Linked DNA regions of Homo sapiens. The protein of the gene in region 1 interacts with the protein of each later gene in a pairwise test. Each region holds a gene or a part of one and is shown in the gene's direction. Other genes may lie near its edges.

Region 1 (3,753 bases):
TTTTTATTGTTGACTTCTGGAAGCTTTTGGAATATTAAAGAGATTAGCTTTGTCTATTACATGTGTTGGGACTATTTCTTCCTTGTTAATCATTTATCTTTTGACTTTGCTTATGGTGCTTTTTGCCGACCAAAGCTTTTCATAGTCATGACTTCTGGATTTCAAGTAATAATGTAGAAAAGCCTTCTTTACTCCAATACTAAAAAGGAATTTCCCCATGTTTTCTTCTTGTCCTTTTATCACATTTATATTTTATTTTTATTTTTTTTTTTGAGACGGAGTCTTCCTCTGTCGCCCAGGCTGGAGTGCAGTGGCCCGATCTCGGCTCACTGCAACCTCCGCCTCCCGGGTTCAAGAGATTCTCCTGCCTCAGCCTCCAGAGCAGCTAAGGTTACAGATGTGCGCCACCACGCGCAGCTAATTTTTGTATTTTTAGTAGAGACGCGGTTTCACTATGTTGGCCAGGCTGGTCTTGAACTCCTGACCTCGTGATCTGCCCGCCTCGGCCTCCTATAAGTGCCGGGATTAAAGGCGTGAGACACCGCGCCCATCTGTTTTTATTTCATAAACGACTGAAAAAAGACCAGAGCCAGGCCTCCTCCCTTCCATCACTAATCTTTATTGCAATAACTCCCTCCTTTGTCGTCCTGTACCTAGCTCAGACCAGACGACACCCCAAACACAAACACCAAGACACGCACCTCTTTAATACGAAATAATAAACATACCTCCCCCAGAGAGACACCCTGAACTAACCAAATCATTGTAACTATACACTAAGCCTTACATAAAAATACTAACATTTGGCCGGGTGCGGTGGCTCACACTTGTAATCCCAGCACTTTGGGAGGCCAACGTGGGTGGATCACCTGAGGTCACGGGTTCGAGACTAGCCTGACCAACATGGTGAAACCCCCGTCTCTACTAACACAAAAATTAGCCAGGTGTGGTGGCGGGCGCCTGGAATCTCAATTACTCAGGAGGCTGAGGCAGGAGAATCGCTTGAACCCGGGAAGCGGAGGTTGCAGTGAGCCAAGATCGCGCCATTGTACTCCAGCCTGGGTGACAAGAGCGAAACTCCGTCTCAAAAAAAAACCAAAAAACCCCCTAACATTCTAGTACACTTCCCTGAACTCTTGTCTATAGAAATGATCCCGCACTTCTACACTTGAAACGCTGACTTGCATTCTCTAAAATCTGCACTCCTGAGCGGGCGCCCGCAGCCTCCGCACTGGCAAAGAATCTGTGAGCTGAGCTCCGCCCCGCTCCGACCCCGTAGTGGCGGTCACCCGGGGTGTGCTCGACTCCCGGGTGCGGCCTGAGGATCCGCGCCCTGGCGTCTGGGCACACACAAAGGTTTCTGCGGCGCGGGACTATCTCAAAATATAAATTAAATACTTTTTTCACAGACAGTTAATAAAAAAACTACAGCTACACCCGGCCCTTTCGCCAACTGGGACCGGCCCACTCCGCGCTCGCGCTCGCGCTCGTCCATCCGGGCGTCTCGAGGGCGCCGGCGGGAGCGAGCACGCTGCGCAGTCACGTGCCCGGCGCGCCCCCGTCGCGGCGCGCTCAGGCGGAAGTGAGGTCGGCGGCTCCGGTGGCTGCGCAGCGTCGGCGGGGAGCGCGGGCTGCGGAGAGGCGGGCCGGGCCAAGCGGAGCCGAGCGAGCGGGAGCGCGGCGTCCGGGAGGCGGCGGAGACGCGGGGCTCGGAGGGTCAGCCTCTTATCGTAGCAGGTCTCCTCGGCACGCCCCCCTTGTTTCGCCCCACGGCCAAGCCCGCCGCGGGCCGGCGTGCGCTGGTCACTGAGGCCCAGGTCGCCGCCGCGGCGCGGTGAGTGGGGGCGGGCAGCGGGCGACTGCGCGTCCAGGCCGGAAGTGCGGCGCTTTGTGCGGCCGGCTCGGGGCGGCGCCAAGGTCGGCCCGCGGCTCGGGGTCGCTGGGCGTCTGGACCGGCCTGGGCTGCGCTTTGTGCCGCGGGCAAGGCCGGGCGGGGGCCGGGGGCGGAGCTCGGCCGGACACGTACGCGTGCAGGTGCGGTCCGGGCGGCGCGGGCCTGCCGCCTAGGTGGCCGAGGTGGCTTCGCGGCGCGGGGCGTTCTCCTAAAGGTCGGGGTCACAGCCGTCAGGAATGCGAGCGTGAAACCCGGGGGCAGAGCTTTGTGACAATAGTCATTTCCAATGTGTAACTGCTCACTTTGTCTACCCACGAAGTAAAGATAATTTTTATTTTTATTTTTTTGCTTGGCGGAATCTGAGCGTTCTCCTTCCAGCTTGAAAAGGCACGATTTAAATTACAGATTTTTAAGATTTCCTTCAGAAAGGACGTTTCGTGGCCTAGCCTGGGTTAACTTTGAAAAAAGAGTGCAGTGCGCCTTTACGACGTCCACAAATAAGGGTATTTCTGTTTTATAGTGTATGTGAACATGAAGTGTGCATCTCATGGGCTGTTTGAGTTAATGTTTAATCATTAAAGTCAAACAAGAATATTTTGCAGTGTTTTCGCATGCAAGGAAGCTTTATAAATAAAAAGGTTTATATAGTTTCCACTCCTTAAACTTTCAGGTCATCCTTGTGTAATTTGAGATCACTTTTCTCAAATACTATGGATGAAAGATTCTAGATTAAATAAAACTTTTTGGTTTTGGCAAAAACAGGACACATTTTTAAGCTCTTGTAGATGAAGGAGTGGGTTATTTTTGCTTTGACAGCCAAGATTTGAGCAGTGTAAGGCTATTCTAATTTTGAAGCTAGTGTTGCAGAAATTGTGAAGATCTTGCTTCTCTTTGTCTTTACAAAGCAGGCTTACTTTGGTGGAGTTCCGTAGTTTAAAGGGAAATTATACCCAAGTTGTCTTAGACAGTTTCTTTTCCTGGATCAATTGAGCACTTTTTTTTTTTTTTTTGAGACGGAGTCTCCCTCTGTTTCCCAGACTGGAGTGCAGTGGCGCCATCTCGGCTCACTGCAAGCTCCGCCTCCCGGATTCACGTCAGTCTTTTGCCTCAGCCTCCCAAGTAGCTGGGACTGCAGGCGCCCGCCACCACGCCTGGCTAATTTTTTTGTATTTGTTTTTTTTTTTTTTTAGTAGAGACGAGGTTTCACCGTGTTAGCCAGGATGGTCCCAATCTCCTGACCTCGTGATCCGCCCGCCTCGACCTTCCAAAGTGCTGGGATTACAGACGTGAGCCACCGCGCCTGGCCGAGCACAATTTTAAAAGAACAGTACACCAGCGTAATAGAGTAATAGTTTTTTCATGCCTTGTGTCCAGTCTGTTAAGTCTGTCTGATTGTACTGTGCAGAAATACATGAATTCCTCCCAGTAAAATGCAAACCCAAACCTTGGTAATGAAGGTAAAGTTTGGGGGAGAGAACTTCTTTTCTTTTTTCTTTTTTTTTTTTGTGAGACGGAGTGTCGCTCTGTCGCCCAGGCTGGAGTGCAATGGCGTGATCTCGGCTCACTGCAACCTCCGCCTCCCGGGCTCAAGGGATTCTCCTGTCTCAGCCTCCCGAGTAGCTGGGATTACAGGCACACACCACTGCGCCCAGCTAATTTTTTGTATTTTTAGTAGAGACGGGGTTTTACCATGTTGCCCAGTCTGGTCTTGAACTCCTGACCTCAGGTGGTCCACCTACGTCGGCCTCCCAAAGTGCTGGAGACACCACCGCGCTCGGCCTATATGCTTTATTTTTTATTTATTCATTTATTTTTTTGAGACAGTTTTGTTCTGTCGCCCAGGCTGGAGTGCAGTGGAG
Region 2 (3,753 bases), on another chromosome or scaffold:
AGTGAGACTCTATCTAAAAAAAAAAAAAAATAACAAACCTAATGAATATGATTGGTCCCTTATCTCCATACAAATATATGTTTCTTGATACCCTTCTCCTAGAGTTATTATAAAGATTTTAAAAATAATCTATATGATTAATTTAGCACAGCGCTAAACATTGGTTTCAAATATGCCTATGCACTGATCTTTACAGAAATGAGTCTGTGTGTATCTGTAGAAAAGGGCAGGAGCTATGTCAAGCCATAGCAGAGTAAATCACTGACTTAAAACCATACAGAATGCTAATCTTACTGATATTGCAGTTGCAAAGAAAATCATCTGTTGGCTCATTGATGTACATAGGGTCTGCTTGGGCAATTCATTCTCATGGGAAAAAGCTCTCAAAATAAATACGAAACCTAAATAGTCAAATGGAGAAAGGAAAAGGAGGGCCTGTCTGATGAGCTGGCTGATACTGGAAATGAACAGAATGTCCATAGGACCAAGACATGGGGAAAAAAGTGAGGCGTGACTAATCTCACCCTGCTGCCTCCAAGGAGTATCGGCCTCTGACATCATCCCTTGAAACTCTCATTGTAGAGTCACAAGGCCCATTTTGAGCAACTCTAGAAGAAAGTAACTAGAAGGCAATCTTTGGACATAATGGTAATGCATAATTACTGAATGACAGAAAACACTGGAACACATGTCATTTCACTTCTGACCCAGCCATTTATTTTTATGGGAAGAACAACAAGAGAATGGCAATGAAATTACAGCAAGAACACTTTAGCTTAAGAATTGAGTAGAATTTTGTTTTTTAACTGATATTAATAAAAAATGTAAAAATGTTACCTTTTAGCATTTAATAATCATATTTTAATCAATATTGATTCTAATGTGTTTTCTGGAAATTTTTAAGATGACTTAGAGTTTCTATAACACTTCATTGTCCCATTTTCCTTTTAATTTAGTTTTTGTTATTTTCAAAATTAATAAGCTGTATCATTCTTTAAATTTTGAATCTTATCTTTCTTAAATTTTTTACTCGGAGATTTTAAAAAATTTTTTTGGAGGTAATGTGTGTGTGTGTGTGTTTTTTTTAAGAGACATTTACAATCAGTGTAAAAAGTATCCCACTATTGTGAAATTGAAAGAAATACCTGGTATACCATGTTGCAGTCTAAATCAGATAGTGAGATTACTGGGTTTGCTTTTAGTGGATTTTATTAGACAATGTATCAATATTATCATTTTCTTTTTTGTCTAGAAATAAACTCGTGTGTATGTATGTGTGAGTAATATTTTTAACCCCAAATGAAAATTGAACCAAAATTACAGTTGGGCATTTTGTATGTGTTAGACTGTCAGTGTCAACATCATCCAAATATTGGTTAACATCACCTGTATACCAGGTAATATTGAATCCAAACTCACCATATAGTGTTAATAGCATAAAGTATTGTATTTTCTTCACTCACCTGAAATGTAATATTGCATAGAAATAGCCCATGCAGTTTTTCATATGTCTTCTTCATCCAACAAATGTGGCTGTGATTAAGTACTCATAAGCAAAGAATCATGTAATGAAAAAAATTTACATACATATGAAATAAGCACACTGGTTCTCAGGCATGAAACAAAGCATATCATCTCTTCCTTTGCATCAAGACTTTTTTTTCTTAAACAAGCAAGACACCGAATAGTGATTTTGAAGTATAAACTTCTTCATAAACATATTTTCAACTCAATATTGTTTCAATTGTAAATGTAACAGGTTTTTTTTAAAGGGCTGCATAGATCTTTGCAAACTTTATATTCATCTCAAGAGACATATTGACTGGGAAAATATTAAGTTCCTTTTAATTTTATTTTTCCCTGGAGCATTTTAAAACTTTGTTCAATCTTTATGGAGTGCATTTTCAAAAATAGATTTCTACTTTCAGTAATAATGTCTTCACTAATCATGGTACAGTACTTCATAAATAGACCAATAATATTTTTGATAAATAATTGATTCATTATTCCCATTTGCGCATGCATATTCAAACTGCATAAGCATCTATAAAATAAGATTGGCTCCATGTACATATAAATGAGACTAAAAGCATACAGAGAAATGGTATATACTCTCCGTACTTTTGACATCTTAATGGTGGATTTTAATAAGGGGAATTCTATATCTCTGGCACGTACTTGTGGTTGGGGCTCAACGGTTTTCATAATAGGATTCTAGCCCCTCGGGAGATGGAAGTTAGGAGCAGAATGAAGGCTTTGGTCCCAAAGATGGGAGTTGTGAGAGCAAAGTGGCAGATGTGTGGTAGCAAGGATGAACTATGTAGAATAAGGAGCCTCTCTAAACTCTCTGTATGGGTTTTAAGCTTTAAACATTGATGGCTTTCATTGTGGGTATGACAGAAATATTTTACAAATGACCATCACCTAAGGCAAATTGAATTTTCTTCTTACAACTTACACGACTTTCCTTCTTGTCATTAATAGTATTTTTCATATGTTGCAAAGAGACGATTGTTAATTCAAGAAAACATAGTTACCTCAATGTCAGTAAGGCTGATTATAGGTGGTATTTTTGGATAGATTGTGATTTTAACAAAGTCATTCAATTAAAAGTTTCCTGAGGTTGTTTGAAGACTTAAAGTGTGCAGTTCCATTCTTTGCCTTTTGAAGAACACCATTTCCTAGATTTCCCCAAGTGTTTTGAGATCGATGGAGATGTTGTGAGAGAGGGAATTGACTGTGAATAGCTGTGTGACCACAGGATGAATGGGATGAATGGTCATGATCATAGCTCTGGTGCCCAGCTGAAGGGGAGAGAATAGAAGAGCTTGCAGTGCTGCTGCCACAGCCTTTAGGGGAGAGGAAATGTTCACACACCACAGTAATGCCGAATTATGTTAACCAAATGATATATGTGGTGGTTGACTGAAGTTTTTTAAGCTTTCCCTGAGGCAAGAAAACTATGGCCTGATATTTATAGAGAGAACATAGATAATGTCAGAGTTTTGAATATTCTTATTTTAAAATACTTCTTAAGATATCCTCCATTCATACCCTTCATTCAATGGAAAGATCTAGCAAGGTTCTTTTATGTGGAACTCAGTATAAAAATACTCTCTTAAACTCACATGACTAACATCTTTAGAAAATGTCTTCTTCTGTAAATAAAAATAATCCATAGGGCACTTCACAGACTGTTAGCAGTATTAAGCCGTAGATAATTTGAATTAATGAGTTCAAATACTTCATTTTCTTAGTGAAAGAAAGTAAACCATGGAAAGATCAATGGGTCCATATTGGGTGATAAAATGAGATAGGGTAAGACCTAGGATCAGAGCTGGGCTCCTTGGTCTCCCAGCCCAGTGCTTGTTTAGTTATACAACACTGTAGGCAACAGGCTACAGGTGGAGGCACTGATCTTTCCACAAACGGATTTGACTGTGTCACTTACTAGATTAAAACCCTTCAAAGCCCATTGAGACCCTGCCACCTCAGAATAGAATTTACATTCAGTACCATGGCCAGCAAGTCTACACCCATCTTGGTCCTCATTTCAATAGTCTCAATTTTTCTGTTGCCACCTTCTGCCTATGGAACTCTTTTTGTCTTTCAAATGCTGCTGCTGTCATATGTGTGTGTGTGTGTGTGTGTGTGTGTGTGTGTGTGTGCGTGTGTGTAATATATGGCCTTTTCTTATGTGCTGATCCATTTGCCTAAAGCTTACTTCCCAGGGCTAGCCCCCACTCAGTCTGT
Region 3 (3,753 bases), on another chromosome or scaffold:
ACTCTTTCTTAAATAGAACTCTTAAATTTAAAGAAAAGAGGGAGAGGAATTTGTTCCGCTAAGGCATGTATGAAAATACACGCTTTGGAGTAAAGTAAGTTCTATGCAGGAGAGAATGAGGTTCCAGCACTAACGAATGGTATGTGTGCCACACCCTTGCCCTTGTGGATGGAGGAGGGGGTGTCTGCCACCTAAGCACAAAAACAGCGTACTGAATTCAAGTGGACTGGGTATCTTTCATTTCAATTTCTCTGTCTTTTATTTGTGTGTTCCATTCACGTTTATTTTCCTTTTGTTTTATAATTTTCTTTCTTTTTTTAAAATTTTCCTTTTTCTCAGGCATCTTTTTTTACCTTGACTTGATAAAATAAAAGATTTAGTAGTTCCCATGCTAGAGCAGTCACTTGTATTTTACTTCCTAGTTTCTCATTTTTAGCACTATTTTTTCATTATCTGTTTATCTTCTTTTACCTTACAGTTTTTCAGTTCATGTAGTCTCTTCTTCTGCTCAGAACTTCTCCCGTTTATTTTATTTTATTTTATTATTTTTTATTATGCTTTAAGTTCTGGGAAACATGTGCAGAACGTGCAGGTTTGTTACATAGGTATACACGTGCCATGGTGGTTTGCTGCACCCATCAACCCATCATCTGCATTAGGTATTTCTCCTAATGCTATCCCTCCCCTAGCCCCCAATCACCTGACAGGTCCTGGTGTGTGATGTTCCCCTCCCTGTGTCCATGTGTTCTCATTGTTCCACTCCCACTTATGAGTGAGAACATGTGGTGTTTGGTTTTCTGTTCCTGTGTTAGTTTGCTGAGAATGATGGTTTCCAGCTTCATCCATGTCCCTGCAAAGGACATGAACTCATCCTTTTTTATGGCTGCATAGTATTCCATGGTGTAATTGACAAATGGAATCTAATTAAACTAAAGAGCTTTTGCACAACAAAAGAAACTATCATCAGACTAAACAGGCAACCTACAGAATGAGAGAAAATTTTTGCAATCTATCCATCTGACAAATGGCTAATATCCAGAATCTACAAAGAAATTAAACAAATTTACAAGAAAAAAAAAAACAAACCCATCAAAAAGTGGGTGAAGGATATGAACAGACACTTCTCAAAAGAAGACATTTATGCAGCCAGCTTCTCCCATTTTTTAAGAGTTTTATTTTATTATTATTATTATTATTTTGCTGGTGAGATAATGTGGGAAACTATTCTGGTTTGCTCTCTTTCTAAAATTCTTGTTGTATTCTTAATTTACGTGGCTTGTCTTTTCTCTGGACTGAGTTGCCTCAATATGGTTTGTGTTATAAAAAATCTATTAGATGCTTTTAGTGTGTTGTAGACATTTTCAGTCGGATGTGTTATGTGGTGTATTTCTTTCCTTTTGGTAAAGATGGAATATCTAAATACGAAGAACCTTTAACTGCCAACTTCTACAAATGAACTGAGCCTTCATGGACAAAACCTGAATCAACTCAACCTGATCAGCAGTTTGGCAATATGGCAATATTTCATTGTTCTTTTGGTTCCTACCTAATTCTCACTTCAGTGCTTAGGATCCTTTTTTAAAAAAAATTGTGGTAGGGATGACACCATGCATACAGTGAATTAGGCCTCATATTTGCATAGGAATTGTAGACTCATTGGGAGCCAATAGCCTACCACCGCTTTACAGTACATTGTAAAGAGGTTTGTCCATGTGTCCAGTGACTTCTCAGATAATGTTTTTAGTAAAGATTTACTGAGAGAGTTCAGATTGGTTCAGTCCTATCACCACTTTTTCTAGAAGTGTTGCAGTGAGGTTCTTCTAAAAGAATTGTTGTGTAGGAAACAGCACACTGCCTAATCTTTGCATTGACAGCACTGAAAACAAGCAAGGGTCGGAGAGATTCTTCACTGTCTTCATTATAATTGTTGCTTATGGGTACCCTGTTATATTCTGATTTCTGTTGCAATTTTACTTGTTCTCTTTTGTTATTCCACCTACTGAATTGAGGAATTACATTTCAGTTATCTCTTCCAAAGAGGATCTTCATCTTAAATTTACTCGCTTTGGTGGGCACATGTATTTTCCCTCCAGCTGCAGCCATCTTGTAACAATTTTCAGCTATAAAGAATTTTCCTTGATTTAATTTATATTTTCAACTAGTGATAAAATACATTGCTTCTATTCCAGTTTCACTGACTACTATGAATAATTATTCAACAGCCTCTCCCTAATCCTCCAACCCCAGCCTGTTAAGCAACGCTTTGTCAGGAGTTTAAATTCAGTGCAAAGAAGTAAGATTTCCACAGTTTAACCTGCAGTTCAGTGAAGTAAGTTCCTTCTAGAATACTTGGGGAATTCTTCCTTCTTCAGATCAAAATCCTCCAGCTGGAGCAAATGGGAGACTAATAAATCACTTAACTTTTTGTAATATTTTTTTAAGGAAACCATCAGATCTCTGAATTTACCCACGTTGGAGTCTATTTATGAGTGCTGCTATTACTGCTTGAGTCTATGGTATAGTCCCTTAAGTTTGTTTAAGATCATTATTAATTTGTTCTAAGTCAGCCAAATCAACAGAAAGGTAAATATGCACCAATAGAAAGTATTTTTCAAAAGTTAAGCAGTTTTTGGTAAAAACCCCAAACCTTATTAATCTTCTACAGATGACAACTCACATATTGCTGATGATTAAAGATACACATGTGTTACAATAGGGCTTCAGACTCACAGCCCATCTCTCTTTTTCTTGATCTTTCAGTAAAATCATAATGCTAAACTGGTGACTTCACAGTCATTTCCTTGGCAAAAGATTAATATCACAAGCACAGAGGAAAAAAAGCCCCCACTTACACACAAGTGTCTTCAATAACAGTGGGAGAAAACAGAATACTACTGGCAAAGTAAATTGCTTTTCTTCTTAAAACTTTTCCCATCCTGCCCCATGTGTCCAAGTGTAAAAGCCCTGCTTTGAAAATGCTTCATTTCATAGATCAAACACTTAAGAGAAAATGACAATAATAAAGCCCAAACATCCTAGGAATAGCTAGGAGAAAAACCTCTAAGACAGTGGGAAATACATCAGTGCAGAAAAATGTAACTGTGTTGAATACACTATTTGTGTTTCTTATGTATACAATTGAGAACTGCAGTCAGATTTTAAGGAATTATGTTAAACTTGATGCTCAAACACTTATTTTAGGGGGTCCTTTCCCTTGGTTCTCTGCAGGTTCTTTAGCTGCCAGCTTTTCTGAGTGGGAGGCTTAGGTGATAAAGGATTGTTGTGAGAATTCAAATTTTTTCTTTTGAACAATCATCTGATGCTCTTCAGAATGAAGACCAGTATATTCAGGTACATTTACCTGTGAAATAAAGAAACACATAACCATTAAAAACAACATTCAAAATGCACACTAAAGATTCTATCCTGAAATAAATCATTAACAGCAGGTCTCAGAGATTTCTTCATCGAGCAACCAGTTTGTTTCAGTTACAACCAGGTGTACTGAGAAACCCCAACACATTGCCAGTTGGCTGGGGCCTGGGAGGCAGAGCTTGCAGGCAGCTAAAGAAACAATGCTCCTCTGGCAACTTCCATTTATCCTCCCAGCTTTCCCAAGGCTAGAAGCTGCAAAGAATGGGCTCCGTGCGCGTACTCTCAGGGAGGAGCCTTCAAGGCTTGTGCGCTTTTCAAAGAAACCGGGTAACAGTCCTTTCTGGGAGACTAGGTTTACCTGGGAGGAGGCTCGAATGG

Evidence for each region.
Region 2: the proteins of FAM168B (region 1) and VGLL3 interact in binary tests that used the Homo sapiens proteins (3 or more experiments, as listed by UniProt).
Region 3: the proteins of FAM168B (region 1) and MSRB3 interact in binary tests that used the Homo sapiens proteins (3 or more experiments, as listed by UniProt).

The regions. Positions count from the first base shown.
Region 1 is NC_000002.12:131,091,295-131,095,047, reverse strand, and holds the start of FAM168B (myelin-associated neurite-outgrowth inhibitor), read left to right. Parts: upstream 1-1,587; 5' UTR 1,588-1,834; intron 1,835-1,885; exon of another isoform or gene 1,886-2,397; intron 2,398-3,084; exon of another isoform or gene 3,085-3,239; intron 3,240-3,753. UniProt on the Homo sapiens protein: Inhibitor of neuronal axonal outgrowth. Acts as a negative regulator of CDC42 and STAT3 and a positive regulator of STMN2. Positive regulator of CDC27.
Region 2 is NC_000003.12:86,970,399-86,974,151, reverse strand, and holds part of VGLL3 (transcription cofactor vestigial-like protein 3), read left to right. Parts: intron 1-3,753. UniProt on the Homo sapiens protein: May act as a specific coactivator for the mammalian TEFs.
Region 3 is NC_000012.12:65,456,683-65,460,435, forward strand, and holds part of MSRB3 (methionine-R-sulfoxide reductase B3 isoform 2 precursor), read left to right. Parts: intron 1-3,753. UniProt on the Homo sapiens protein: Catalyzes the reduction of free and protein-bound methionine sulfoxide to methionine. Isoform 2 is essential for hearing.